3 separate regions of the Homo sapiens genome follow, and all the other regions are linked to region 3. Evidence: fine-mapped expression QTL. A gene starts in region 3. Each other region holds a variant in brackets. All regions are shown on one strand. Distances are from middle to middle.

Region 1 (8,183 bases), 77 kb after region 3:
AAGCAGCCGGGCAGGTATTGTTGAGTATTTCACTGCTAAGAATGTTAGAAGACAAAAGCACAGATAGATGGGGGGATTTAGAGAAATGTTGTCACTGTTTGGCCTAGAGCAGGAAAAAAGTACTGCTTTCCTCCTCTCCTGTGGAGGCTGTGGTCCAGGCCTAGGAACTGGTTTGCAGTATGGTACTGAGCACCCAGCCTGGCACTGCACGGTCTGGTGGAAACGTGAGAAGTGTCCTGTGGATCGTGTCTCAGGTGGCACCAGGTTTCTGTCAGCGCAGAAAGAGAACTGTTACCAAAGGTGACACTCGGGGAAAACATTTGAAGTATTTGAAGGCAGTCTTCTCTTGCTAGTTTTGAGTCAGGACACCTAAGGAACAATGATGTAATACACATGTAAACATGTTGCTTTTCATTTGTTGTCTTTTGTTGAGTTTCACTGGTCATTAACAATGAGCTAGATAAGCTACAGAGTCTGCAGCTCTGGGTAGATAGAAGATTCTGCCCTTGGAAGTGGTCGTTGTCCATCACTCCTAAAAATCACACTGAATAAAGGCAGCTCCATGTGTCCTGGGAAAGGCACAGGCTCTCTGGACGCTTACCTATCCTTTGTTTGTTTGTTTGTTTTGTTTTTACTTATAGTGGCCTTTGGTTTATCATTCATCTCTTTTGCTTTCTTAAACAGAATATGGTGCACCTGAAGATTGGGAACTCAAAACACAGCAACCACTTATGCTGAAAAACCAGCTACTAAGTAAGAATCTCAGATTCAAATAGTTTATTTGTATTTGAGTGCTTAGGTGCTGAAACAGTTAGTGTGTTTCTCTTAAGTGTGTACCTCTTAAGTACCTAAGTAAATGCCTTGAGTTTTAAATGAAAATTTTTTTTTTTTTTTTTGAGACAGAGTCTCCCTCTGTCTCCCAGGCTGGAGTGCAGTGGTGTGATCTCAGCTCATTGCAACCTCCGCCTCCCAGGTTCTAAGCGATTCTCCTGCCTCAGCCTCTGGAGTAGCTGGGACTACAGGCATACACAACCATGCCCGGCTAATTTTTTTTAATCGAGACGGAGTTTTGCTCTTGTTGCCCAGACTGGAGTGCAGTGGCACGATCTTGGCTCACCGCAACCTCCGCCTCCCGGGTTCAAGCGATTTTCGTGCCTTAGCCTCCCGAGTAGCTGGGATTACAGGCATGCGCCACCACACCCAGTTAATTTTGTATTTTTAGTAGAGATGGGGTTTCACCATGTTGGCCAGGCTGGTCTCAAACTCCTGACCTCAGGAGATCCACCCGCCTCGGCCTCCCAAAGTGCTAGGATTAGCGGCATGAGCTACCGCGCCCTGTCAAAGAAATGAATTCTTTAAAACATGTTTAAATTCTTATACATTTTTGTAACTCCTATGTTTTAAACTCATTTAATAGTGTTATAAATGTGGGAGGTATTGGAGTTGTGAACCAAATTGTGATTTGTGAATTTATGACTTGAAAACCTAGCCAAGCTGTAAGGAAAGAAGTACTAAGTGGGGAAAAGGGAAAGTATTGTCCAGCTATTTCTGTTGTTGTTAGCAATCCATGGAAGGATTAATAGAAAGAATTTTAAACATTGATTAGACCTGCCAATTTGCACTGAATACCTCTATCATTTGGCCATCTGTTGATGTGTGTGGATAATTTAAATCCATATAATAGTAGATATCAATTAGTCTTTTTCTTTGTTTCTCTTAAAGCACTGAAGATAAAATACCCTCATCAACTTGATCAGAAAGTCCTGGAGAAACAACTGCCGGGTAAGAAGAACCAGCCTGTCTTTTCCTTAAACTCTGAATCATCGGCCTAGGTATGAGTCAGCTAAAATTAAAACCTTTAACTCATGTCTCAAAGTGTGGACCTCAGAACTTACAGGTTTTCATTAGTCTTTTATATTCTAAAATACAATCAATCATGCTAATATCACTCCCCCATGCCCCCAAAAGTTCAGGTCTCCCCTAACTTTATCAGCTGAAAGCAGTTCTGTTAAAATTGGAAGCCCCTGCATATAATTACACACACACACACACACACATATATATATACACACACACACACAATTTTTTTTGAGACAGGGCCTCACTCTGTCACCCAGGTTGGAATGCAGTGGCACCAACTCAGCTCACGGCAGCCTCTGCTTCCTGGGCCCAAGCAATTCTCCAGCCTCAGCCTCCACGTAGCTGGGACTACACGTGCGAGCCACCAACGCCCAGCTAATTTTTGTATTTTTTGTAGAGATGGGTTTTCGCCATGTTGCCCAGGCTGGTCTCGAATTCCTGAGCTCAAAGCCATCCTCCTGCCTCAGCCTCCCAGTGTTGGAATTAATTACAGGCATGAGCCACTGCAGTTGGCCTAAGTTGTATTTTTAACCAAAAAACCTGAGACCTTGAATGGCATAGCCTTTTGGAAGCATTCCCCAAGCCTGCTGCTGTTTCCAGGGAGACTGTGACACTGGGTTTGGGGTCTGCTTCTCATCCCTTCATAAGAGAGGAGCTGTGTCCTGGTGAACCAAATTCTTACGGGAGGTTTGTGACTTTGCTTACATTCTACTTCTCCTGACTGATTAGGAGTCCCTGCAAAAACAATTCGCAGATGCTCTTTTAATGGACACCCTGAAATGGTTTTCTTTGAGAAAGCTACCTTAGAACTTAAAAAAATTGTGGTACTGGAACTGAATTACTTTTATTTGGAAAATAAATATGCTTGTGTCAATAAAGTAGATCAACATAACTTACCTTAAACTTTCACTCAAAAGAAAAATGAAATTATAGTCTATTTTTGAGTATGCCATGATACTGTGAATTCTCAAGATTAAACTTGATTCATAGCTAAATGCTAAAATATAAATAATTTAGAGCAGTGAGGATTTAAATAAATGAAATACACATCAGCTTAATGACTCTAGTACACTGGGTTTCTTTGCCCATCAGTGCAGTAAATTCACATTGATTTTTAAATTAGTTTCTATCAGATAAAGCAAGCTTATCATGGTATTGCTTATAGAAGGCCTTAGTTGTGTTCAAAGAAGTACCTTTCTGATTGATAACCATCCATTTAATTTACCACAACGTCTCCATTTTTATTTATTCACAATCCAGTTTCTACTCCTGTAATATGTAATTTGGCTACTGCTATATAATGGGTTAGAATTAGTGATTTCCCCCTTCATTATTCTGTTTTCAAACTTAGACAGACAGTAAAGGCCCTGGTGGAGACAGACTAGTCAAAGAGGGCCAGGACTGTTTTATTTTTGATATATTTTTTTCAGATGGGGTCTGGCTGTCACTCACGCTGGAGTGCAGTGGTGCCATCTCAGCTCACTGCAGGCTCCATCACCTTGATCCCGGGCTCAAGTGATCCTCCTACCTCAGCCTCCTGAGTAGCTGGGACTATAGGCACGAACCACCACACCCCGCTAATTTTTTTGATTTTTAGTAGAGATGAAGCCTCGCTATGTTGCTAAGGCTGGCCTCAAACTCCTGAGCTCAAGCAGTTCTCCTGTCATCACCTCCCAAAGTGCTGGGGTTATAGGTGTGAGCCACCATGCCTGGC[A/G]GGCCAGGACTTTCTGTGAATGTTTTTGGCCTTCGATGTCTTTGCGTGTTTCCTTTTGCCTTTGCAGATACATCAAATCAATTCATGGGAATGTTACCACTATAGAGTATTTGCTCAAGAATATTGTCATTAGACCTGTTTCGTTAAGCTTTCCTTTTCAGTCTTTCTCTGGAAGGCACTGAGGTAGACCTGCCAAGGCCTGCCGTCTGGGCATATGCCTGAATGCAGCCCTTGGCTGGGGGTGACAGTGCCGCCTTACCCTTCTCTACTTCCACACTGTACACCTGACTGGTATCCCAGGTCTTCTGAGATTCAGTTAGCCATTTTGGGAACACCCACTGCATTCATGCTGTTTTTATTAATCTTTGGGTAGCTAGCAGAGATTCGACTATCCATAGAAATTATATGTAAGAATTACTACTTTAAACTATTCAGAATCTGAGTCCTATATTCTATAAATTCAGCAGTAAGCCAGCAGATTACAAGGGTTCCTTTTTTTCCCCTTTTTTATTTGCTTTTCTGTTTCTCAAATGTGCACTCACTCACTCACTCATACAAAGGTTCTTAATACTAATTCTTATGCCACATGCTGTGAATATTTAACCACTAACATAGGTAAATGTCTTCTAAACAGAAAAGTAATAGCCAGGCATGGTGGCTCACACCTGTAATCCTAGCACTTTGGGAGGCCAAGGTGGGCAAATTGCTTGAGCCCAGGAGTTCGAGACCAGCCTGAGCAACATGGTGAAACCCCGTCTCTACAAAAATAAATAAATACAAAAATTAGCTGGGTGTGGTGGTGCATGCCTGTAGTCCCAGCTGCTTGGGCGGCTGAGGTGGGAGGATCACTTGAGCCTGGGAAGTTGAGGCTGCAGTGAGCTGTGATTGAGCCACTGCAATCTGGCCTGGGTGACAGAGTGAGGCCCTGTCTAAAATTAAAACAAAACAAAACAAAACTGCAATATCTTTTTTTTTATCCATTAGATTAGCAAAATTAAAATAATACTGGCTGGCATGAAAAAGCAGTATACCCTTTTTTAAAGTCATGTGGGAACTACTATAAAAAGTTAAAAATACACATATGCTCTGACCAAGCATTGTATCTTGCAGCATTTGTAATGGTAAAGATAGTAAGAATCTAAGTACTTGCCAGCGGAGGAATGGTGAATAAGCTCTGGTGGAACCACACAGCACACAAGGCACTGTCGTGTGTCACCGAGGAGAGTGAAGCAGTCTAGAGCTGCGCTGTCCAGTGTGGCTGCAATAACCACATGTGGCTATTTAAATTCATTAAAATAAAATAAATTGAGTTCTTCAGTCATACTCGCCGCTTTCCAGGTGCTCAGTACCACATGTGGCTGCCATACTGGGCAGTGTATGGCTAGAGGACATGGCATGGAATTGGCATGAAAAGCTATACCATCATGTCATAAAGAAATACAAATGTAGTACGTCAATATATTATAAAACCTATACATCCTTTTTTTTTTGAGACGGAGTCTCATTCTGTCACCCAGGCTAGAGTGCAGTGGCATGATCTCGGCTCACTGCAAACTCTGCCTTCCGGGTTCAAGCAACTCTCCCGGCCTCAGCTTCCCAAGTAGCTGGGATAACAGGTGCCCGCCACCATGCCTGGCTAATTTTTGTATTTTTAGTAGAGACGGGGTTTCTCCATGTTGGCCAGGCTGGTCTCAAACTCCTGACCTCAGATGATCCGCCCGCCTCGGCCTCCCAAAGTGTTGGGATTACAGGCGTGAGCCACTGCGCCTGGCTTAAAACCTATACATCCTTATATGAACACAGAAAAAAAAAGGCCTAGAGGTATACCTCTCAAATTTTTAACACTGGTCATAGGCAGGTAAAAAGAAATAATCAGCTATTTCCATATTTTCTGAATGTTAAGACAGTCATGTTACTATATTAAAAATGGTAATGCTATTTATTACATAGAGATTGCTACTTTCTTCTATAGAACCGGTATGAGTAGGCAGGTTTTTTTTTTTTTTTTGAGACAGGTTCTCACTTTGTTACCCAGGCTGGATGGAGTACAGTGGCGCGATCATGGCTCACTGTAGCCTTGACCTCCTGGGCTCAAGTGATCCTCCCAAGTAGCTGGGACTAGAGGCGTACATCGCTATGCTTGGCTAATTTTTTATTTTTTGTAGAGATGGGGTATCCTCATGTTGCCCAGGCTGGTCTCAAATTCCTGGGCTCTGATCCCTCTGCCTCCCAAAGTGCTGGGGTTACAGGTGTGAGCAGGCCAGGCAGATTTCTTATTAGAACTGTTTTATGACCAAACTTTTTGTTTCTGGCATGTGTTAGGAGTATGTCACTCCCCACTGGTGTGCAGCAGGTAACCCCTTCTCTCACCAGCCTTCAAACAATGAAAGCCAGTCCGTCTCAATCTTTTGAAAGGACTAGACTATCACATATTCACACATGAAAGAGCAAATTGTTAATTAAAATTATAAATTCTATTAACTGTATTCAATACATACAAAAAGGCCAGTTTTTATTCTAAAATAAAGAACATTTATTATCACAAGTTGGATAAAAACACACAGCTTTTACAAAAATGATTTTTGATAGAAAAATATGTTTGAATACACTGTGATATTTGTAGGAACACCACACTATTGCTGTATCTCCAGCTAAAGCTTCAAGGAAACTCTATTTCTTATAATCAAAATATCCACTATTTACCACAACCCGTCTTTGGAAAGAAGTTCATAGTGTATTCTGAACAAACCAAAGCATTTACTCGGAAGTTACATTCCCATGCCTGGCAGTCACTTGTGTATGTTTAATACAGTTACACATGATGTAATTACAGAATGGCGGCGCTGGAAGGGACCTTGTAGATCATTTAGTTGGCACCCTAATTTTACAGAGGGGGAACTAAGGCCAGAGTTGAGAGATGTCCTCAGGATACCTGAGTCCCATTCCAGTGTTCGTTCAGTAATTCATAAGGAAGTCATCATAAAGGTTTAAAAAGAAAACGTTAATGACTCGCTCCCTTTATTCTTCTGTGCTGAGAGTATCATTCTGGTTTATTCAGATTAAGAAAGAAATACACTACTGAAATGGTATGAAACTCACTGTCAAAGGGCACTTAGGTCCGTTGGCTCCGTTTCCCACAGTTCCCCAAATGAACAGGTGGTACAAGACTCAGGCTTTCCCCTAATTACTTACTTGGGTAAAGTGACTTGGGTAAAATGAAAGATACAGCCAGGCGCTGGGCTCATGCTTGTAATCCCAGCACTTTGGGGGGCCAGGGCGGGCGGATCACGAGGTCAGGAGTTCAAGACCAGCCTGGCCAACATGGTGAAACCCCGTCTCTACTAAAAATACAAAAGTTAGCTGGGTGTGGTGATGGGCACCAGCTACTCAGGAGGCTGAGGCAGGAGAATTGTTTGAACCCGGGAAGCGGAGGTTGCAGTGAGCCGAGATTACACCATTGCACTCCAGCCTGGGCGACAGAGCAAGACTTACTTAAGTAAGTAAGTAAGTCAGTCTCAAAAAAAAAAAAAAAAAAAAGACAGATACAGCTATCATTGCAATGATACTGTGGTCTCATCACATGAGCTAGTTTTACAGGTAACTGTCATTTGAGAGAACGAATGGACTTTTCTTGTCTTTTGATAGGCTCCATGACAATTCAAAAGGTGAAGGGATTGCTGTCACGTCTTCTCAAAGTTCCTGTGTCAGACCTTCTGTTGTCCTATGAAAGTCCCAAAGTAAGTTGCCCAGCAAAATACAAAGTCAAAGTCAAGCTTAGTCCTCGTATTATGACATTAAACTGTCTCTAGATAGCAACAGTTTGATTCTAAATGGAGACCATGGGTCTGTTTGTTTGATTTTAAGGGTAAGCTACTGCCTGGGGACGGGGTGGGGGAAGAGTATGTGTAGCATGCTTTATCGGATCTGTCTTAATCACATCCTTCCCCACCTTCGTTCTAATTTTAGAAGCCGGGCAGAGAAATCGAGCTGGAAAATGACCTAAAGTCATTACAGTTTTATTCTGTGGAAAATGGAGATTGTCTATTAGTGCGATGGTGACAACCAACTAATAAAATTTAAAGACCACACTGCTTATCGTGTCTGGGGTTCACCGGAAATAAATGATTCACTGGAACAATTCTACTGTCAAAACAAAGGGGGTTTACAACTTGTCCTAAGTATAACAAGGGATGTATTTTTTGTTGGGAAGTGACCATTTCTAGGCTTATACATAATAGCAATAATAAAGGCTTTGAACCTACTAATGATTTTCTGATCTTATTTCATATTTATTTTTACAGCTCATCACTGCATTTCATGATAAGATTTAAATATTAAATAGAAAGAAACTAGCTAGCCTAATAAAATCTGAACACAGTTAATATCTGTCATAAGACTAGTTTTAATGGAATTCTCTATTGAAACTACTATTTTAAAGGGTTACTAGAAATGATTTGGTTGGTCATTTTGGGAAATGTCCCTTAAACTTGGGGAGACATCCTCTACTATGTATAACAATATGCTATTATCTGTCTTCTCAGTTGCACTATTTCTAAGAGTACTTAAATTAATCACATGCTTTTCCCTACAATTATACCTAAGCTGAGTA
Region 2 (8,183 bases), 64 kb after region 3:
TGAGGTCAGGAGATCGAGACCATCATAGCTAACAAAGTGAAACCCCATCTCTACTAAAAATACAAAAAATTAGCCGGGCGTGGTGGTGGGCACCTGTAGTCCCAGCTCCTCGGGAGGCTGAGGCAGGAGAATGGCATGAACCTGGGAGGCGGAGCTTGCAGTGAGCCGAGATTGTGCCACTGCACTCCAGCCTGGGCGACAGAGCGAGACTCCATCTCAGAAAACAAACAAACAAACAAAAAATCTGCATCTGCTGCCAGCTTGCCTTTTTCTTCTTGGAAGTCCCCTCTCTCTTACTAGAGAGAGAGCTGTTTTCCATCTTCTTTCTCTTGCCTTTTAAACCTCTGCTCCTAAACTCCTCATGTGTCTGTGTCCTAAATTTTCCTGGTGGGAGAAGAGGAATACCAGGTGTATACCCCAGACAACGCAGCTGCTTCGCTAGTAGACATTTTTATACAGCCAGATTTTGGTTTACTTGAATTTATCTAACTTTAACTTTAAGGACACATTTAATCTTTAAGGACACTTTATTTATTTATTTATTTATTTATTTATTTGAGACAGTGTCTCGCCCTGTCGCCAGGCTGGAGTGCAGTGGCGTGATCTTGGCTCACTGCAACCTCTGCCTCCCGGGTTTGAGCGATTCTGCTGCCTCAGCCTCCTGAGTAGCTGGGACTACAGGCACGAGCCACCACGCCCAACTAATTTTTGTGTTTTTACTAGAGACGGGGTTTCACTATGTTGGCTAGGATAGTCTCAATCTCTTGACCTTGTGATCCGCCCACATCAGCCTCCCAAAGTGCTGGGATTACAGTGTGAGCCACTGTGCCCAGCCTTATGTATGTATGTATATATGTATGTGTGTATATATATATATATATTTTTTTTTTTTTTTTTTTTGAGACAGAGTCTCACTCTTGTCGCCCAGGCTGGAGTGCAATGGCGCGATCTCGGCTCACTGCAGCTTCCCCTTCCCGGGTTCAAGGGATTCTCCTGCCTCAGTCTCCTGAGTAGCTGGGACTATGGGTGCCCACCACCACTGCCAGCTACTTTTTGTATTTTTAGTAGATGCAGGGTTTCGCCATGTTGGCCAGGCTGTTCTTGAACTCCTGACCTCAGGTTTTCCACCCACCTCGGCCTCCCAAAGTGCTGGAATTACAGGTGTGAGCCACCATGTCCCGCCTCTTTAAGGACACTTTAATCTTTAAGGGCACATTGATTATTATAGCCTTGCAAACGGTCACATGAGGTGATTCATGAATAAGGAATGTGTTTTAACTTTTACCAGGTGGGGATGAGTTAGATTTTCATTGAACTGCAAGATCTTATTTTTAGCCTGACCGTAAAGATGGAAGGTTGGGGGAGGTGATATTTAATTGGGGAGTAGGAGAGGAGAGGTGATATTATTAAAACTGCTTGTTTATTTGAAAACTTCTAGCGTTTAATTGCTGTAGGAATGAGTAATTTCATTGGGATACTGTTTAATTCTGTTTTGATAAGGATTTTTCATTAATCTACCTATTTTACTAATGTCACACTTTTCTAGGCCTTCCTGAATATTTAATTTGTTTTAATCTCAGAACCTAACTTTCCAAGGGCTTAGCCAGGCTTCCTCCATTTTTTTTTTTTTGAGGCAGAGTCTCACTCTGTTGCCCAGGCTGGAGTACAGTGGTATGATCTTGGCTCACTGCAACCTTCGCCTCCCAGATTCAAGTGATTCTCCTGCCTCAGCCTCCCAAGTAGCTGGGACTAGAGGTGCCTACCACCACACCCGGCTAATTTTTATATTTTTAGTAGAGACGGGGTTTCATCATGTTGGCCAGGCTAGTCTTGAACTCCTGACCTCAGGTGATCCATCTGCCTTGGCCTCCCAAAGTGCTGGGATTACAGGCGTGAGCTACCGTGCCCAGCACAGGTTTCCCCTTTCATTCTTGAACCATTTTTGCATAGACATGTGAGTGTACAGTAAAGCCGGTAGACAGGCCTGAATGAGTTGTGCTCCCAAATAGAGCAAACGGGGGCAATTCAACCCATGGTGTCTCATCTTCTGGAAATACGGGCTTGTGTTTTTTAATAGTATCGTCTTTCAAAGTGACTGTCAGGATTGAATACTTTCTGAGATTAGGGTTTTGAGAAATAATTTAAGGGGCAATAATTTCATCCATCCTCATAGCCAAAGGGCAGACTCTATGTTTAGAGAAGCAAAATTCTAGCCCATGATTCAGTGTATCAGTAAGACTCTGGAGAACGGGACTTTGTTTTGCAGTATCCAGAGCCATATCTTGTGAAGCTGGAAGCTCACCTTGCAAATGCCTGAGTTTTGGGTTTAGGAAGCCTACAGCCGCATACAGGTGCCCTAATCCTGTGAAAGCATCTTTACACAGCTGATACCAAAAAGTTGTATGTTGTAAATGTTAAAAATTAGGTAGTCTTGATTCACTTGAATCATTAAAAAAGTGATTTTTAAAATATAATTCCATTTTAAGATTGAAACAAATCAAACCCCTTAGATTAAAACCCAGATTGTTGCTTTCAACAACTATTTCAGTTGGGTTTACTGTATAGAAATAAGTACATTGTATCTTTTTTTTCTACACAGTGAAAATAAACTAAAATTTCCCTCCGGTTCAGTATTAACTGGAACGCTTTCTGTACTGAAGGTTTTAGTCCTCAATCAAACAGGAATAACGTGGGCTGAGGTAATCATATTTCTTTGTTTTATTACACATTAATAAGCAATTAAAAATGTTTGGTTTAATAGAGAATTGTTAGTACAGTTTAATAGTACAACTGTGGCTTCATTTAAATCATCCCAGTATCTATTAATAGATAACAAGATTCATTAAAGTGCCTTATAAAAACGAGTTAAAAGAGCATCATAGTTGAGTTTTGCATCTGGAAATCCATGTCCTATCTCAGCTCATTTTGACTTGTTCTGGTGCCTTTATAAACAGTGGCGCTCCGTTATGGTATGAACCAGTATGTGCTGAGCTTCAAAAAGCCGTAGTGTTGGCTATTGACTAGCTTCCTGAGTTTTCCTGTTAGTTTTTTTTAGAACAGAAGCCAAGCAGCAGAAAGGTTCTCACATACTTTTCTTGTTAGAAGTTCGGCTCTTGGAATCCACTGTTCATTTTATACAGCCGGGCTCAAAAGTAGACTTGTGGGTCCTTGGCACAGCAGCATTTGGGACTTATATCTGGCAGTACTATTTCCTGTCTGAGGTGTACTGACTTCACACACCCAGAGCATTCCACTTTCTTTTTTTTTTTTTTTGAGACGGAGTTTTACTCTTGTTGCCCAGGCTAGAGTGCAATGGTGCAACCTTGGCTCACTGCAACCTTTGCCTCCCAGGTTCAAGCGATTCTCCCACCTCAGCCTCCCAAGTAGCTGGGATTACAGGCATGTGCCATCACACCCAGCTAATTTTGCATTTTTAGTAGAGACATGGTTTCTCCATGTTGGTCAGGCTGGTCTCGAACTCCTGACCTCAAGTGATTTGCCCGCCTCGGCCTCCCAAAGTGCTGGGATTAGAGGTGTAAGCCACCGTGCCCAGCCCACTTTCATTTTTATTTATTTATTTTTCTTGAGACAGAGTCTCACTCTGTTGCCCAAGGTGGAGTGCAGTGGCGCAATCTCGGCTCACTGCAACCTCCGCCTCCCAGGTTCAAGTGATTCTTCCGCGTCAGCCTCTCAGGTAGCTGGGATTACAGGCATGTACCACCATGCCCAGCTAATTTTGTATCTTTAGTAGAGACAGAGTTTCTCCATGTTGGTCAGGCTGGTCTCGAACTCCTGACTTCAGGTGATCCACCCACCTCGGCCTGCTAAAGTCCTGGGATTACAGGCGTGAGCCACCGTGCCCAGCCCACTTTCATTTTTATTTATTTATTTTTCTTGAGACAGAGTCTCGCTCTGTTGCCCAAGTTGGAGTGCAGTGGCATGATCTCGGCTCACTGCAACCTCCGTCTCCTGGGTTCAAGCAATTCTCCAGCCTCAGCCTCCAAAGTAGCTGGGATTACAGGCGCTTGCCACCATGCCCAGCTTATTTTTGTATTTTTAGTAGGGACAGGGTTTCACCATGTTGGCCAGGATGGTCTTGAACTCCTGACCTCAAATG[A/C]TCTGCCTGTCTCAGCCTCCCAAAATGCTGGGATTACAGGCGTGAGCCACTGTGCCCAGCTTGGGCATTCCACTTTCAAACCAAGGGTGTAGAAATACATTCCCAGCCATGTTCACCCAGGAAGTGCCACAGAGGCCACTCAGTGAGAGACAGGTGGGCCCCTTGTGCCCTTAATATGCCCGTGGCCATGGAGCCTCTTTCCTAGGGCCCCTCCTCTGTGAGGCGCTTACTCCCTCTCAAGGTGTAGATGTAGCTGGAAGACAAGAAGGGGCCAGACACTGGCACTGGGGCTCACACCTGCAATCCCAGCGCTTTGGGAGGCTGAGGTGGGAGGATCACTTGAGCCCAGGAGTTTGAGGCTGCAGTGAGCTAGGATTGCACCTTTGCACTCCAGCCTGGGTGACAGAGCAAGACGCATCTCACCCTCCAAATAAACTAGGAAGGGCACACAGAAATTGAAGTGGTGGAGATGGCAGTAAAGTTCCAGTGAGAAAATTTAGAAATAGTTGGTGAGGCTGGTCATGGTGGCTCTCGCCTATAATTCCAGCCAGCACTTTGAGAGGCCCAGGCAGGAGAATCACTTGAGGCCAGGAGTTCAAGACCCACCTAGGCAACATAGAGAGATCCTGTAGATGCTATATATATATTATATATTATTATACATAATTATATAATATATAATAATTTTTTGTAATTTTTTTTTTTGTAAAAAAAAAAAATTAGGCTCATGCGCAGTGTGGTGGCAGCAGGCACGGTCTCGACATGCAGAAAGACGCCAGCAAGTTCGTGGATCTGTGCGTGCTGCAGAAATGCTCCACCAGCAACTGCATCATCAGTGCCAAGGACCACACATCCATGCGGATGAACGTGGCCAAGGCCAGTGAGGTCACGGGCAGGTTTAACAGCCAGTTTAAAACCTGTGCTATCTGCAGGACTGTTTGCAGGATGGGTGAGTCAGATGATTCCATTCTCTAATTGGCCATGGCCAAGGGCGTCATCTCAACTATTTGGTTTTTGAGATGGAGTCTTGCTCTGTTGCCTAGGCTGGAGTGCAGTGGTGTGATATTGGCTCACTGCAACCTCTGCCTCCTGGGCCAAAATGATTCTCCTGCGTCAGCCTCCCAAGTAGCTGGGATTACAGACGTGCACTACCACGCCTGGCTAATTTTTTGTATTTTTAGTAGAGATGGGTTTTCACCACGTTGGCCAGGCTGTTCTCAAACTCCCGACCTCAAGCATTCTGTCTGCCTCAGCCTCCCAAAGTGCTGGGATTACAGGCGTGTGCAACCATACCCGGCCATTTTTGTATTTTTAGTGGTAATGGGTTTCATCATGTTGGCCAGGCTGGTCTCCAACTCCTGACCTCAAGTGATCCACCTGCCTTGGCCTCCCAAAGTGCTGGGATTACAGGCATGAACTCACTGTGCCCGATCTCAAAGAACTTTTGATTGGAGAGAATCATGGATGTAGAATATTTGTCATAAATATATAATGAAAACTTTAAAAAATGTATAATTAAAAAAATAATGAAAGAAGAAATAATTGTTGAGAAATTTATGAAAGGATATGAAAAATTAGCATATCCTTTACAAACCCAGATTGGCATTTAGAATTGAGGAAAGGTGTGTAACATCAATTTACTTATTTTGGTTAAGCAAATTCTATCAAATAATAATATGTGCAGTTAGTATCTCCTGTTCCACCTCGTAGCTGCTTTACCTAAACCATGCATTGACACGTACCTCCAAGGCCTCAAAGTGCCCACAGTGTGTGCTCCCACAGCATTAAAATGCACCCCCTTAACATTTTATTTATCACCCCCCACCACTATTCCAGGCCTGAAACAGTCTTATGAACTGTCCGTGAGGCACTTGTTTGCTGAAACAGTAACTGAGCTGAATTCTTGTGGTGGTTCCTATGAACACCCGGGAAGAAACAGCCAGCAGAGGCCGCCTGAGCCTGAACCGAGTTTCTCTTCCAGGTGCTGCGGTGTGTCGCGGGGTGCCCAGGCCTGGAGGAACTCTACCTTGAGTCTAACAACATTTTCATTTCCGAAAGGTAACTAGCACTTACTTAAATGCATCTATCCCCATTTAATCATCATTCTGAGTAAATAAATGGTCTCAATTATATCTAACCTTAATTTTTAGAAGGATTTGCAAACAAGAATTAGGAAAAATGCTTATTATTCATTGCCTTCACAAATTAGAATTTCACTAATTGGTTCTAATCAAAGGAAACTCATCAGAATTAAATATTTGTGAAGACATGAGTTATATTAGTTTTGCATCAGTGTATTAACTTGCTGTTTCTTTTTTTTCTTTTTCTTTTTTTGAGACAGAGTCTCACTCTGTCGCCCAGGCTGGAGTGCAGTGGCGATCTTGGCTCACTGTAACCTCCGCCTCCTGAGTTCAAGCGATTCTTCTGCCTCAGCCTCCCGAGTAGCTGGGATTATAGGTGCCTGCCACCATGCCCGGCTAATTTTCTTTATTTTTAGTAGAGACGGGGTTTCACCATCTTTTACGGGGTTTCACCATCTTGGCCAGGCTGGTCTCGAACTCCTGACCTTGTGAGCCACTGTGCCTGGCCAACTTGCTGTTTCTAAATGGAAGTTCTGTAGGATATGCTATAAGGATTAAATAATGTATTTTTCATTAGCATCATCTGTTTAAGGTCATTGTACCAAAGTACATGTAAAACTTTGTTCTCTGAAATATATTGTTGCCTCATCTCCTTTTTAAATTAATAATATTAAATTACTATGTAAAATTAACCTAACTGTGGGAAAATTTACAACAGATTCTGAATTAAAGGATTCAGAATCTTAAAGATTTTCGTTTACAGAAGGGTTTCATTATGTAGGCAAATGCAGGTTTTTTGTTTTGTTTTTTTTTTGAGATAGAGTTTCATTCTTGTCACCCAGGCTAGAGTGCAATGGCACCATCTCGGCTCACTGCAACCTCCACCTCCCTGGTTCAAGTGATTCTCCTGCCTCAGCCTCCCATGTAGCTGGGACTACAGGCACGTGCCACCATGCCTGGCTAATTTTTGTATTTTTAGTAGAGACGGGGTTTCACCATGTTGGCCCGGCTGGTCTTGAACTCCTGACCTCAGATGATCCACCCGCCTCGGCCTCCCGAAGTGCTGGGATTACAGGTGTGAGCCACCGTGCCTGGCCTGCAGGTTTTTTAAATTAAATTTTTTTATTTTGAGATAATCATATATTCACATGAAGTTTTATAAGAAATGATACACAGAGATCACTTGTACCCATGACCCAGGTTCCCCCATTGGTAACAAGTTGCAAAACTATGATATAGGATCACAGGCTAGGTGTGACACTGATACCGGCAGGAATATGTGCATCACCACAGGGACCACTCAGGTTGCCCCTTTACAGTCATATTTACTTGCTTCTTATCCCCAGCCCTCCATCGCACCAAATGCAGGGATTTTAAGGCTGTATCTTTGAAAACAATTAAGAGATAAATTCACGGTGAAAAAATTTTATTTTCCATACAGGCCAACAGATGTTCTCCAGACAGTCAAGTTATTAGATCTTTCCTCTAATCAATTAATTGATGAAAATCAGCTGTATCTGATAGCCCACCTGCCCAGGTAATTTGCCCCTAAATGCCTGATACAATAGTGTTCAGTCAATTCTTAGTGAAGCAGTTTTCATATGCTATGTATGCTTTCTCAATAGAAACGTGGTAACAATGATGGAATTTCTAAATTGAGTAATTCCCTTTGGGAAATTTTCATTTGAATTCATTTAGAAAATTTACTTGTGAACCCTGTATAATGTGGACTATGTCTGTACCAGATAATTTGAAGAATGAATAATTTGACCCTGGTGATAATGCGGAAAGTCTTCATTCATTAAACTCCGGGCAGTAGACCGTGTCTCTTTCCTCTGAGACGCATTTAGCACCTGACATAGCAGTAGGTACTCAAGAACCATTAGGTGACTATGGAGTCATTAGAATACAGGATAAAGAGTTCACTTTGCATGTCCTAAGTTGGACTTTATGGTTTCTAAGTATTTTACATGGGATTAAAAACC
Region 3 (8,183 bases):
TTTTTTTAGTACAGATGGAGTTTCACCATGCTGGCCAGGCTGGTCTTGAACTCCTGACCTCAAGTGATCCACCCACCCCTGCCTCCCAAAGTGCTGGGAGTAAAGGCATGAGCCACAACGCATAGCCTGCAAATGGGTTTTGTTTTATTTATTTATTTATTTATTTATTTATTTATTTATTTATTTATGAGACGGAGTCTCGCTCTGTTGCCTAGGCTGCAGTGCAGTGGTGTAATCTCAGCTCACTGCAACCTCCGCCTCCCAGGTACCAGCAATTCTCCTGCCTCAGCCTCCCAAGTAGCTCGGATTACAAGGGCATGCCACCACACTCGGCTAAGTTTTGTATTTTTAGTAAAGACGGGATTTAACCATGTTGGTCAGGCTGGTCTCAAACTCCTGACCTCATGATCTGCCCACCTCGGCCTTCCAAAGTGCTGGGATTACAGGCGTGAGCCACTGTACCCAGCCTCTACAAGTGGGTTTTTAAAGGAAAAAAGAAGAGGTAGTTCCTAAGTTGTTTACCAATAATAATTTACATTAAAATAAAATAAGTTATTGATTGGCTACACATTGTTTTATTTTATTTTATTTTTTGAGATAGAGTCTCACTCTGTAGCCCAGGCTGGAGTGTAGTGGTGATATCTGGTCTCACTGCAACCTCCACCTCCTAGGTTCAAGCAATTCTCCCGGCTCACCCTCCCAAGTAGTTGGGACTACAGGCACGCACCACCATGCCTGGCTAATTTTTGTATTTTTAGTAGAGACGAGGTTTCACCATATTGGCCAAGCTGGTCTTGAACTCCTGACCTGGTGATCCGCCCGCCTCGGCCTCCCAAAGTGTTGGGATTACAGGCATCAGCCACCGCGCCTGGCCTATTTTTTCTTTTCTCACCAACTAATGGAAAAGTGAGGGCTTTATTTATGTATTCATTTTCAGATGGAGTCTTGCTCCGTCCCCCAGGCTGGAGTGAAGCAGCACGATCTCGGCTTACTGTAGCCTCTGCCTCCTAGGTTCAAGCAATTTCTGCCTTAGCCTCTTGAGTAGCTGGTTTTACAGGCATGTGCCACCACACCCCACCCAGCTAATTTTTTTTTTTTGAGACGTAGTCTAGTTGTGTCACCAGGCTGGAGTGCATGGCGCGATCTCGGCTCACTGCAACCTCCGCCTCCCAGGTTCAAATGATTCTCCTGCCTTAGCCTCCCAAGTAGCTGTGATTACAGGCACACAGCACCATGCCCAGCTAATTTTTGTATTTTTAGTAGAGACAGGGCTTCACCCTGTTGGCCAGGATGGTCTCAATTTCTTGACCTTGTGATCCACCCGCCTCAGCTTCCCAAAGTACTCGGATTACAGGCATGAGCCACCACGCCTGGCCTTTTTTTCTTTTTTGAAACAGGGTCTCACTCTATTGCCCAGGTTGGAGTGCAGTGTTGAGATCTCAGCTCACTGCAACCTCTGTCTCCCCTGCTCAAGAGATTCTCCCAACTCAACGTCCTGAGTAGCTGGGACTACAGGCACCTACCACCACGCCTGGCTAATTTTTGTGTTTTTTTAGAGACAGGGTTTCGCCACATTGCCCAGGCTAGTTTTGAACTCTTGAGCTCAAGTGATCTGCTTGCCTCGGCCTCCCAAAATGCTGGGATTATAGGTGTGAGCCACCGTGCCCTGCTGAGGAGAGTCTTAGTTTGGGATCCATGGATTCCTTTGAGGCCTATTCATGGGCTTCAAAGGATTAATCAGTCCTTGAAATCATACGCAAAATTTGTGTGTAGGTAGATAGCTTTTATCAGATTTCCAATGTGGTTTTTAATCCCCTCTTCCAAAGAAAAAACAATCACTGTAATATCTAGTTTCTAGTTTCAAGGAGTGAACTATCAAAGTATAAAACAGTAGAGACATCCAGCAGGATACTGACTGTTTGTGTCCATTTAATATGACAATTAGAAGGTCACTTCTTGGAAGAGTCATTTGGCTTTGCTCCCTCAATTTCCTTTCCACTTCACCTCACTTCAGTCTGGTTTTGGAATGCTAACACTCACTCTACCCAAACTGCTCTTGTTGTGGAGTCTGTGGTATCCACCAATGGGTTCTTTCTGCCTGCTGCACAAACAAAATTAATTGACAGAAACCATGGCATTGCAGTAAAGAAAGTTTAATTGACGCGAGGCTGGCCATGCCACGTGGGAGACAGAGTTGTTACTCAAATCCATCTCACCAAAGGCTCAGAGGTTAGGGGGTTTTTCAGATAGTTTGACAGGTACGGGGCCAGGGAATGGGGAGTGCTGACTGGTTGGGTCAGAGGTGAAATCATAAGAAGTAGAAGCTGTCCTCTTGCACTGAGTTGGTTCGTGGATCCCCAGGTTGATGAGTCAGGGTGGGGCCATCCACTTGTCAGAAATGCAAAAACCTGAAAAGACATCTCAAAAGGCCAATCTTAGGTTCTACAACAGTGATGTTATCTGCAGGAATGATTGGGGAAGATGCGAATTTGTGACCTGTGGAATAATGGGTGGTAATCATTTAACTACAATTACAACTTAGAAGAATTCAGGACCCTCTCATTCTCCTAACTTGGTGGCCTTTCATTTAGTTTTAAAAGGGCAGTTTTGGGGAAGGGTTATTATCATTTAAACTATAAACTAAATTTCTCCCAAAGTTAGTTTGTCCTGTGCCCAGGAATGAGCAAAGACAGCCAGTCTGTGAGGCTAGAATCAAGATAGGAGTAAACCATGTCAGATTTCTCTTACTGTCAAAATTTTGCAAAGGCGGTTTCAACAGAAATTAACATGTCTAGGATAGTTGCTTTTTCTATTATTTTTTCTATCACTGCATTTACTTTCATTCTGCCTTATGCTTTAACTAGGTAATTTTTTTTTTTTTTTTAGTTTTGGCGGTATCAACACTATATTCTTCTCTTTGACCACCGCATGCTGCCTACGTGGTAGACTCTCAATACGCATGGAACTGAACCTCTTACAGGATTTGTAACTCACTTCTGTGGTATCTAGTAAACTGGAACACGCGCTTTCCCTGGGCTGCTCTGTCATCCCAGGTTTCAGCACTCGGAAATCGCTTGGGCCCCCGCCCAGAGGCGGGGCTTGGGTGGGCTGACCACTCCTCTGGCCTCCAATACTGTCGCTGACATTCTCGTCTATGCTCCAGCAGCCGTACCTCACTCCGGTGGAGGCGGGACTTCCTACAGCACTTCCGGCCAGAGCCTCAAGCTTCGCTGCTGGGCAGTTGGCTGGAGGGGCTGCTGCTGGGAACACCTGGAGTCTCCGCGGGCAGGTGAGCTTCAGAGGTTCGGGGAGCTTTCGGAACGAGCATTCCTGGCCGGTGCGTCACCCTGCAGTGCTCTTGGCCTTTTCTTCCTTTCCTGGAATCTTCCCAGATTGCCAGAGCCGGGCGTTGCCTGCTCCGTGCGCTGGGAGGCGGTCCAGCCGGCTGGGTTGGGGCCACCCTGCGCCTCCTGGAAGGCCTTATTTAGGAGTAGCCGCACGTGATCTCTAGCATTTTAAGCTTCTCTCAGAGAATTGGCATGTCACTTTGGAAGAGGTGAAAATGGTACAGGCGACCAACGACTTTTACAAGGTGTCACCTTAGAGGAACAGCCTCGTCCTTCCGAATCAGTTAACATTGGTGATGACAGAGAAATAACGTTAAATAGGTGGAGAGCACTTAAAGTAACTGTTTGTTCTTTTGAGACAGTCTTGCTCTGTCGCCCAGGCTGGACTGCAGTGGCGCGGATCTCTGATCTCGGCTTACTGCAACCTCCGCCTCCTGGGTTCAAGCGATTCTGCTGCCTCAGCCTCCCGAGTAGCTGGGATTACAGGCGCGTGCCACCACGCTCGGCTAATTTTTGTATTTTTAGTAGAGACAGGGTTTCTCCATGTTGGCCAGGCTGCTCTCGAACTCCTGATCTCAGATGATCCACCCGCCTCGGCCTCCCAAACTGCTGGGATTACAGGCGTGAGCCACCGCGCCCGGCCTAAAGTAACTATTTTTACTTGGTGTTTACTACCAAATGGGGACTGTTCTAAGTTGTGGGTGGATCCAAATGATGGTGTGACAGCCTTATCCTCAGAGAAGCAGTCCTGGCAGGAAGACGGGGTTAACAAATTGCCAAACTGTTAGAGAAAGTTAGTGGAGGTAGAGATGAAGAGAGAAGACTTTTCTTTTCTCTGGCATTAATTTAGCCACGGCCGCTGTGTTTTGATACTTGCTTCAAACGTTTTTCATATTCTTAAGTTTTAACTTTTCTGTATGCTCATATTTTATATACTGTTGTAAACAGCATATCTCTGGGTTTTTTTTTTAATCTAAGTGGACAGCCTGCTTTTTTTTTTTTTTTTTTTTTTTGATATGGAGTCTTGCTCTGTCGCCCAAGGCTGGTGTGCAGTGGCCCAATCTCAGCTCACTGCAACCACGCCTCCCAGGTTCAAGCATATCTCCCACCTCAGCCTCCCGAGTAGTTGGGATGACAGGTGTGTGCCACCATGCCCAGCTAATTTTTTTTTTTTTGTATTTGTAGTAGAGATGGGGTTTCGCCATGTTGGCCAGACTGGTTTTGAAGGCCTGACTTCAGGTGATCCACCTGCTTCAGCCTCCCAAAGTGCTGGGGCTACAGGTGTGAGCCACCGTGCCCAGCCCAGTCTGCCTTTTGACTAGCAGGTTTATTGGATTTACATTCATTGTCACTACTGAAATATTTGTCTAGATGAAAATCTTTGGTATCATCCCTGATTAATCTCTTCCATATATATCAGCAAATCCTATGGACTCTCCACCTTTAAAATCTGTCCACACTCCCAGGCTCTTGTTATCACCTTCACTTGTTCAAGTTACGTTGTCTCGTACTTGAATTACTGCAGTAGTTTCTGCTCTTTCCTCTTTTAGTCTGTTTGCATCACAGTATCTCGGTTGATCCTTTAAAAAAAAATCAGATTTATGTCTTTCCTCTCAAAAATCCTCCAAGGACTACACATTTCACCTGGAGTGAAAGCCAAAGTCGGCCGGGCGTGGTGGCTCATGCCTGTAATCCCAGCACTTTGGGAGGCCGAGGTGGGTGGATCACGAGGTCAAGAGGTCGAGACCATCCTGGCCAACATGGTGAAACCCCGTCTCTACTAAAAATACAAAAATTAGCCGGGCGTGGTGGTGCGTGCCTGTAATCTCAGCTACTCAGGAGGCTGAGGCAGAAGAATCGCTTGAACCCGGGAGACAGAGGATGCAGTGAGCCGAGATCGTGCCACTGCACTCCAGCCTGGCGATAGAGCAAGACTCTGTCTCAAAAAAAACAACAAAAACAAAAAAAACAAAAACTGGCTGGGCGCAGTGGCTCAAGCCTGTAATCCTGGCACTTTGGGAGGCCAAGACTGGTGGATCACCTGAGGTCAAGTGTTCAAGACCAGCCTGGCCAAAGTGGCGAAACCCCGTCTCTACTAAAAAAAAACACAAAAAATTACCCAGGTGTGGTGGTGTGTGTCTGCAATCCCAGCTATTAGGGAGGCTGAGGCAGGAGAATTGCTTGAACCTGGGGGCAGGCGCGGAGGTTGCAGTGAGCCGAGATTGTGCCATTGCACTCCAGTCTGGGCAACAAGGGCAAAACTCTGTCTCAAAAAAAAAAAAAAAGCCGAAGTCTTCAGAGTGGATTATTCATCGAAGGTCCTATGTGACCTAGCCCTGCTTCACTGCTGATCTCATGTCGTTCTCATCTCCTGTTTGCTCTACTGTATGGTCTCCTCAAGCGCATCCTAGCCTCAGGATATTTGCACTTGCTATTCCTTTCCCTCATATGTCCACATGGCTCAGTTCTTTACCTCTCTCATATTTTGGGGACCTTTACCTTCTCAGTAAGGCCTTCTCTGACAAGCCACTGCCATCTTTAACATTTCCATTGCACTCGTTATCCTTGTGCTTATCATCATATGACATGCCATGTGATAGAGTCATTTATCTGGTTTATTATGTTTTCTCTCACTGGCATAGAAGGTTTATGAGGGCAGGTATTTTTCTGTTTTGTTTACTGCTGTATTCTTTTTTTTTTTTTTTTTCTGAGACGGATTCTTGCTCTGTTGCCCAGGCTGGAGTGCAGTGGTACGTTCTCGGCTCACTGCAACCTCTGCCTCCTGGGTTCAAGCAATTCTCTGCCTCAGCCTCCCAACTAGCTGTGATTACAGGCGCATGCCACCATGCCTGGCTAATTTTTGTATTTTTAGTAGAGATGGGGTTTCACCATCTTGGCCAGGTTGGTCTTGAACTGCTGACCTTGTGATTCACCCGCCTCAGCCTCCCAAAGTGCTGGGATTACAGGCGTGAGCCACTGCACCCGGCATTTTTTTTTTTTTTTTGGGAAGATCTCTTATTGTACTTCCCTGTAAAATCCATTACTGTTTTATTCCAATTGCCTAAAATAGTATCTGGCTTTTAGCAGACACTCCATAATATAATTGTTGATTGAATGAATTTGGGGTTTTTGCACCATCTTCTACACTTCATATTTTTATGCTTTTTTCCTCCTTGTCTTTTCTTTTTTTTTTTTTTGAGATGGAGTCTTGCTCTGTCGCTCAGGCTGGAGTGCAATTGTGTGATGTCGGCTCACTGCAACCTCCGCCTCCCGGGTTCAAGCGATTCTCCTGCCTCAGTCTCCTGAGTAGCTGGGATTACAGGCGCACGCCACCACGCCCAGCTCTTTTTTGTATTTTTAGTAGAAATGGGGTTTCACCATGTTGGTCAGGTTGGTCTTGAACTCCTGACCTCATGATCCGCCCGCCTCAGCTTCCCAAAGTGCTGGGATTACAGGTGTGAGCTATCACGCCTGGCTTTTTTTTTTTTTTTTTTTTTTTTTTTTTTTTTTGAGACAGAGTGGTTGCTCTTGCTGCCCAGGCTAGAGTGCAATTGCATGATCTTGGCTCACCGCAACCTCCGCCTCCTGGCTTCAAGCAATTCTGCCACCTCAGCCTCCTCAGTAGCTGGGATTACAGGCATGCGCCACCATACCTGACTAATTTTGTATTTTTAGTAGAGATGGGGTTTCTCCATGTTGGTCAGGCTGGTCTTGAACTTCTGACCTCAAATGATCCACCTGCCTCAGCCTCTCAAACTGCTGGGATTACAGGCGTGAGCCACCGCCCCCGGCCACTCTTGTCTTTTTTTTTTTCCCTTTTTTTTTTTTTTTGAGACAGGGTCTCCCTCTGTCACCCAGGCTGTAGTGCACTGACACGATCTTGGCTCACTGCAAGCTCTACCTCCCGGGTTCAAGTGATTCTCCCACCTCAGCCTCTGAGTAGCTGGGATTATACGCGTGTGCCACCATAGCCTGGCTAATTTTTGTATTTTTATTAGAGATGGGGTTTCATCATATTGGTTAGGCTTGTCTCAAACTCCCAACCTCAGTTGATCCACCCACCTCTGCCTCCCAAAGTGTTAGGATTACAGGCGTGAGCTACAGCACCCGGCCCCACCTTTTTTTCTGAGACAGAGTTTTGCTCTTGTCACCCAGGCTGGAGTGCAATGGCACGATCTCGGCTCACTACAACCTCCACTTCCCGGATTCAAGTGATTCTCCTGCCTCAGCCTCCCAAGTAGCTGGGATTACAGGGACCCGCCAGCATACCCAGCTAATTTTTGTTTTTTTAGTAGAGGTGGGGGTTTCACCATGTTGGCCGGGCTGGTCTCGAACTCCTGACCTCAGGTGATCTGCCTGCCTTGGCCTCCCGAAGTGCTGGGATTACAGGCATGAGCCACTGTGCCTGCCCTTTTTTTCATTTTTTCATTTTTTTGTACAATAGGGTCTCCCTCTGTTGCCCAGGCTGGAGTACAGTGGTGTGATCAGGGCTCACTGCAGCCTCGAACTCCTGGGCTCAGGTCATCCTCCAACCTAAGCCTCCCAAATACATTGGCCTATAGGCGTGCACCACCACACCCAGCTGATTTTTATATTTTAATTTTTAATTTTGCTGTGCATATTTAGCTGGGATTACAGACGCACTCCACCTCGCCAGGCTAATTTTTGTATTTTTAGTTGCAACGGGATTTCACCATAGTGGCAAGGCTGCTCTGGAACTCCTGACTTCAGATGATCCTCCTGCCTTGGCCTCCCAAAGTGTTGGGATTACAGGCGTGAGCCACCGCTCCTGGCTGGCTTTGTAGAACCTTAAACATATTTATCTATCTTAAGAAT

Direction of the effects. Alleles are on the strand shown, and positions count from the first base shown. SD is a standard deviation of normalised expression in the study named.
For the expression in tibial nerve of the gene that starts at base 3,212 in region 3, A is the low allele of the variant in region 1 and G is the other (small effect, 0.25 SD a copy in GTEx).
As copies of A replace C in region 2, the expression in prefrontal cortex of the gene that starts at base 3,212 in region 3 goes down (moderate effect, 0.61 SD a copy in ROSMAP).

What was found. PIP is the estimated chance that this variant, and not a neighbour inherited with it, causes the effect.
Region 1: its variant is the best candidate, but not a certain one, in a credible set for the expression of TBCE in tibial nerve (GTEx, PIP 0.64).
Region 2: its variant is the best candidate, but not a certain one, in a credible set for the expression of TBCE in prefrontal cortex (ROSMAP, PIP 0.59).

The regions. Positions count from the first base shown.
Region 1 is chr1:235,441,130-235,449,312 of GRCh38, forward strand. It overlaps TBCE (tubulin folding cofactor E), which reads left to right. Exons shown (of 17, transcript NM_003193.5): 14 at 685-753; 15 at 1,723-1,782; 16 at 7,220-7,311; 17 at 7,541-8,183. The coding sequence ends at 7,633. It overlaps B3GALNT2 (beta-1,3-N-acetylgalactosaminyltransferase 2), which reads right to left. Exons shown (of 12, transcript NM_152490.5): 12 at 6,061-8,183. Among named protein-coding and RNA genes, the nearest start is that of B3GALNT2, 59 kb to the right of the region's middle. RefSeq lists an enhancer at 1,102-2,301. The variant A/G (reference allele first, on the strand shown) is at 3,575.
Region 2 is chr1:235,428,106-235,436,288 of GRCh38, forward strand. It overlaps TBCE (tubulin folding cofactor E), which reads left to right. Exons shown (of 17, transcript NM_003193.5): 7 at 2,600-2,699; 8 at 6,099-6,175; 9 at 7,640-7,735. It also overlaps the pseudogene RPS21P1. Among named protein-coding and RNA genes, the nearest start is that of TBCE, 65 kb to the left of the region's middle. The variant A/C (reference allele first, on the strand shown) is at 4,118.
Region 3 is chr1:235,364,216-235,372,398 of GRCh38, forward strand. TBCE (tubulin folding cofactor E) reads left to right here and starts at 3,212. Exons shown (of 17, transcript NM_003193.5): 1 at 3,212-3,289. LOC124904559 (a long non-coding RNA gene) reads right to left here and starts at 3,205. Exons shown (of 2, transcript XR_007066957.1): 1 at 2,995-3,205; 2 at 2,138-2,408. RefSeq lists enhancers at 2,919-3,632, 3,172-3,511.